2 linked regions of the Homo sapiens genome follow. The protein of the gene in region 1 interacts with the protein of each later gene in a biochemical or structural test. Each region holds a gene or a part of one and is shown on either strand. Other genes may lie near its edges. The genes, in order: ITGA9 and ITGB1.

Region 1 (2,769 bases):
GGGACTGGGTCCAGAAAAACCAGTGAGCTGCCACACCAGTCACATGACCTGATCACTAGCCTGTCATCCTTGGTCTTTGTATCTTCCATATTTGGAAGAAAAAAATCTTCTCCAGATTTTTCGGAGGCCCCACTGATGCTGTTCTCTTCTTCATTCTATCAAGCCCAGGTGCCAGCCTGAGGCAGCCACTTCGGCCAGGTCACACGACCGGGGCCAGCACCACTTCCTTTAAAGATGAACTCTGAACTTTGGAGAGTGAGCTACAGAGCCGAGCAATATTTATGGATGCAACACGCATGGTCAACCCTCAGGGGAAAACTGTTACCTAAAGTATTTTTATAAATATAAGCCTTTTATACTGATTATGTCTTTTATATTTGTATCGATGTTTTATTATTTCTATTAAATAGTTATATAATTCACTCAAGCACTGATATCTGGCCTAAAATCTTGGAAGTACATGTCCATGAATACAAATTTTAAAGGATGAAAATCTTACCGTACTTTGGAACTTGCTGTTTAAAAAGACAGATGAAATAAGTTGAAGAAACCTCATGTAATGAATCCACCAGGCTGGCAGTGGTGCATATAAACTGTGGGTGTGGCAAGACCCCGAAGACATTTCACATCTTTATCGCCTCGATCAAGTGTGGAGTCACATGCTAATGTGTGCTAAAGAACTGTAAGTGTTTTTTCATATGTACTTTTCATTGGAAGATTCCCAACAAGAATTTGGATGGAAAACCTGATCCCTAGCAAGAAGTCTGCTCTGTATCACCTTTATATAGCAGACATGTCACCCTGCTTCTACACAGATGATGGATGAAAGCTTGGAGCAATGCCATGTGGTCATCTGGTAAACCTCAGAATGGCGTCTCATCCTGGACATCCTGCATCAGAGTTCACACACCACAAGGACTAAATCCTTGTCCCCTAAGCAAAGAATTGGGTCTGAATGCTGTGAGGGATTGCCTTTTTGTGGTAATTTTCATTGAGAGATCTTCATTTCCCCTACCACCCTGGCTGTCCCAGCTAGTGGTGATTGCAGATTCCTTCCCAGAGAGGACATTTAACCGTTTTAAAAAAAATGTCTTAGATTGGGTTCCCAAGAAGCAGTCCCTGAAACAAGGATTTGTGTGCAAGTAACTTATTAAGGAAGTATTCCCAGGGGATACCAGTAAGAGAGTGGGGGAAGCAGGACAAGGAAGGAGACAAAGCCAGGCAAATGTTTGTCATTTCAGGGAGAGCTCCATGAAGTTTAGCCTCAGCCTGATCAGGGGAACTCCGGAGGAAAAGTTAGGCCTCAGAGGTGTCCCAACCTGAATCAAGGGGCTGGCTGCACCCAGAGGAGATGTAAACGTTTTATTCTCAATTCCTGCTGGCGTAATGGCTCCAGTAGCTCAGGACAGTCCTCTAAAGGACAACCACAGATGCATCCTCAGCCAGGGGAGACACAGGGAAATGATGCAAAAGAAATGATGCAAAGGATCTGAGCAGAACACTGCCCCTCCCCACCCCCTGAATGTGTGAGTGCTGAGTTACGGCCTTCAGTATCCAAGCTCTCTGTTTGACAGTAGATATATTGTCAGATGCACTGTGCTGCTTAGTTTTGAGTGCAGTGTGATTTTCTGAAAGGGCAATGAGATGATGGATGTAGCATGCTCAGCACTGACCTGGCCCATAGTGATCACTCAATAACTGTTAACAGCTATGGCTGCTATTCCTACTGATGGATAACCATCTAATAAGACAGAAAACATGGGGCTAAGAGCAGGGTCTAACGGAGTCTTAATGGCTTATTACAGCCTGCCAAAGTGCCAGCTACATACACATGGCATCCAGTGCGGATGAAACAATCTATAAAACCAAGGGTCTTTCTTATAGCACCTTTTTTACTGGAAGCTAACACGTTGGGAGTCCGTGAACATTGTCAAAAAGACATCAAACTCAACTTCTGGGAAGACAGATTTTTAATACACATACTTGGCTAATACTCACAAACATATCTAAAGTTTTGGCAAAATTATGAGGGTGATGGGTGGGTACTAACCTGGCATGGAGCAGGTGTGTCTTTTGGTTTCTTATGCAGTTGACTCTGCTGCAGGGAGATTACAGATGTAACCTCATGCTTCTCTTCCTGGTGAACATGGGAATAGACCAAAAAAATCAAGGGTCAATGGCATGAACTAAGCTGATCCTGGAAATCAGGGATGTTGCATCTAACTGTGGGATGGAGGCACAGAGGTAGCTACAGGGAGCAGGACGAGGCAAAGAAAGCAGCTGTCACTCAGAGTTCGCTTATGAGTTTTATCAAAAGCAGCAAGAAAAGCAGTCTTGGGTGGGTTTTATCACTTATTAACAGCCATTTATGAGGCCCCTGCTGTGTGTCAGGCACTGTGCAAGGTGCTGGAGGTTCCCCAGAGAACACTTCAGGGACATTTTGCCTCAGGGTGGCAAAATGCAGTGGCATGTGGACTTTTTGAATGGGATGCCATTTGCAGCTTTCCTTTGATGGACTCTTGTTCATAATGCCATGTTTTCTTTAATGAATCATTTAGGATTCTTAGGTGATATTTCTGGAACAGCACCATCAACAGCTTTGGCCACATGCACTTAGAGCAACTAACTTGCCTCCTGCCGGGGTGTAGGTGCGTTGGTGACAGTGTAGAAGGGTGATTCGCAGGCCCATGTTCTGCCCACCAGCAAAGCCCCACTGGAGAAGGGTAGACTCCTGTGGGCAGTCTCAGAGCTGGGACCTATTTGCTTCTG
Region 2 (3,542 bases), on another chromosome or scaffold:
CCCGAGTACCTGGGATTACAGGTGCCTGCCACCATGCTAGGCTAATTTTTTTGTTTTTAGTAGAGATGGGGTTTCACCACATTGGCTGGGCTGGCCTTGAACTCCTGACCTCCAGTGCTCTGCCCACCTCGGTCTCCCAAAGTGCTGGGATTACAGGCGTGAGCCACTGTGCCCCACCAGTATTATCCTTAAATAACAAATTTGTTATGAGTAAATTTTAGGGTTGGATAGTGAAAATTGATCACGAAATCCAAATTGCAAAATAGAAAAATATAACCTACTATGATATTTGTATGGTATGCAACTACAATATCATTATTGGTTCTCAAAAGATTTGAGATCAATTTCTTGAATATAACTTGAAATTTCATTAAAAGCCAGAAGACCATATATATGTATGTATATTATATATATATGTGTGTGTGTCTGTGTGTGTATGTGAGAATGATTCTAATTTTCAAATGTAAGTTTGTAACTGTTCATATCTGAATTTTCATGAAATGCTTCCAGCATATTCTAATAAAATCATGCAAGCCCCTAAAACTCTGATAACAAAGGTTAATTGTGATTAGAACTAAATTCTCCTGACTGGTGGTTGAGAACTCTTCTTCTCTTTCCCAACTGACTGACTGTAATAGGGCCTGGAAGATTTCTGCTTTTCTCACTGCCTACCTTATTGTGCAGATAAAGATGGTATTGGGAACACTTACATAAAAATCACTGTGTCTCAGGCATGATTCTGACCACTTAATCTGTGTTTAATCTTCATAGTGAAAGTTGTAGGAATGTTTTACATATGAGAAAACTGAGACACATAAGGGTTATGTAACTTGACCGAGTTCCCACGGCTGGTTAGTCAGAGAGCTGAGATTTGAACCCAGGCAGTTGGGCTCCAGAGTCCATGTTCTTGTCTATGACATTGTACTTGGTAGCAGTTATGTATCTTCAGAAGTCCCGTTACCTGGTTAGGAAGAGGTAGATCACTCTTTATAGAGATTTACAGCCCTTTTACAATTTGTTGTTACTCTGTCAGAGTTAACACTGCTGCTGTTGGCAAACATCATGTTAGGGAAATCACTTTAATACATGGAACCCAGTGCTGTTGTTGTGTTTTTTGACTATTGAGAGTGTGCTTACAAACTGATCATGAATAAGAGCCTACAGTACAGGAATGTTTAATAGTTACAAGTGATATAGGAAGTGCTGATAACATTAGAAATCATTAACTTGTCAGATTTTTATTTCTAAGTAGACCGTAAGATTTTTAAAGTTAAATTTGATGGCAGAAAATTATATTCAAATTCACATATGGGCAGGTTGGTACATATTTGTATTAGTCTGAGACAATATATTTTTCTCGTTCTCACTTAGTACTTTACAGAAAGTCATTTTTAGAGGAAAACTGATTAGCCAATGACATTGCCAGGCTTTTTTTTTTTTTTAATACATATTTTTTTCTTTAGTTGTAGGTCAAAAATAGTCAAATGTTGACAATTTCATGTGGTTATTTCTCACAAGAGAAAAAATTTCTGTCCTACTGAGGTGAAATTTTCACCCTTGCTGTACCTTTCATTGTATTTTGAAGGAAATTATCAGTAAATGTTATTTAAACTTAATGTTTATAATGTATATATGGCTAAAATGTTGCTAAAATAAGCATTTTATGTAATTCAGGAAGCAGAAGTTTGGTAAAAATTTCTCTATGCATTATTGAAGTCCAGGCAATTTGATGGCTACAGATTATTTTAAGAGATGTTTTTCTCAAGAAAAAGTAGAAATTAACAATTGAAATAAATGAATGAGCATCAAGAAATTACATCATGGATTGTAAGAAACTTTTCTGATATGGACCAAGGTTTGCCAGTCAATTATGTCATTGAAATTTTTGAAATAATGGGCAGGCGCTAATTACTTTGGCAGAAGACTACCATGTAGGAACATTAAGAAGAACATGTCACATTATCAGCTTCTAACTGTTGGAGTGGGTTAAAAAAATGGTCTGTCCTCATCTGCTGCTATGCGGGTTTAAATGTGGCTCCCAAATCTCCCACACTTCTGCATTATGTATTTAATACATTGTAGAGATGGTTCTGCAGCTACCACTGTCAGCCATTCCAGAGTGAGCACAAAGATGACATTTTACTGAGCTTGAGGGCTTCCTTTCATAATATAACCCTGTTCTCTTGCTGCGGGTTTTTTTGGGGTGGGGTGGTGTTGCACTCTGAATGATGGAAACTAATTTGAATTATTTTAGTTTACCTTCATTTAAAATGATGCCTAATACAGATAGTGAGCTTAATTTTACCTCTAACCTTGCATGTTAAACTTTTGTTTGAGTGGACTTTGAAATAATAAATACAAATGTTTGTGTATACGACAAGACAGATTTTTCTCCAAAGGTAAGTTCTTCCATATAAATTACACTTTGGACTCATCTATATAGGGCTTTTTTTCTTTATTTTTTGTTTTCTTTTTTTTTTTTGTCCTTCCCTTATAATTCTTGAGTATTAAATACTAGATTTAGCAAATATATTGTATTAAAGAAATTTAATTAGATGCTAATTTATTTTCCCAACATATTTGAAGGAATGTGTAGCACTTAGCCTCAAATCAGATAGGATATAAATGTGGAGTGTAATTTATTTGCACTCTGGCTTTTTAAGATAGTAGTTGCCAAAATCCAGTTTCCTGACCCCCATTTTGAAATGTCTGCTCTCACAGCTGTATAATGTATTAGCTTCAGTTGGGACTAGAGCTGAGAGTTTGATGTACACAGTTTTGTCATCCACATTATATGCTGTTTGTCTCTGAGGGATCCTGAGTTTGTCCATGTTTCTGAAACAACCAGTCAAGGTGTATTTTGAGGAGAGGGGAGTGAGGGCTGAGGTATGTTGTCTGGTTCTGATTGGTATCACATGAGCTGCTGAGCTGAAATCACAGTGGTTTATTTGGTGTCTTGCAGGACCCAGCCTTTATATGTTAATGTTTTTCCCTCATTGGTATGGGATACCTACAGGATGAAGTTTCAGACTTCATAGCAAGGCCTCTAGGACTGTTCTTCCTTTGTCTCCTCACCTCCAATCATATGCCCCCTTAATTCTTTTTTTTCCTCTTTTTTTTTTTTTTTTTTTTTTGAGATGGAGTCTTGCTCTTTCGCCCAGTCTGGAGTGCAGTGGTGCGATCTCAGCTCACTACAATCTCCGCTTCCCGGGTTCAAGTGATTCCCCTATCCCAGCTTCATGAGTAGCTGGGATTACAGGCACCCGCCACCACACCCAGCTAATTTTTGTATTTTTAGTAGAGACGGGGTTTTACCGTGTTGGCCAGGCTGATCTCAAACTCCTCACCAAAAGTGATCCACCCACCTCGGCCTCTCAAAGTTCTGGGATTACAGGCATGAGCCACCGCGCCTGCCCTCCCCTAACTCTAGAAACTTCTGAACTGTATGTATTTCTACTTAAATGTCCCATTCTTTTCCCTACACCTTGACTTTGCATAGATTGCTATTTACCAACCAATAATTTTTCTAGTCAATTTCACAA

Evidence for each region.
Region 2: the proteins of ITGA9 (region 1) and ITGB1 form a complex in vitro, tested with the Homo sapiens proteins (one study listed by BioGRID).

What each region holds. Positions count from the first base shown.
Region 1 is NC_000003.12:37,818,964-37,821,732, forward strand, and holds part of ITGA9 (integrin alpha-9 precursor), read left to right. Parts: coding exon 1-26; 3' UTR 27-2,769. UniProt on the Homo sapiens protein: Integrin alpha-9/beta-1 (ITGA9:ITGB1) is a receptor for VCAM1, cytotactin and osteopontin. It recognizes the sequence A-E-I-D-G-I-E-L in cytotactin. ITGA9:ITGB1 may play a crucial role in SVEP1/polydom-mediated myoblast cell adhesion.
Region 2 is NC_000010.11:32,902,944-32,906,485, reverse strand, and holds part of ITGB1 (integrin beta-1 isoform 1A precursor), read left to right. Parts: intron 1-3,542.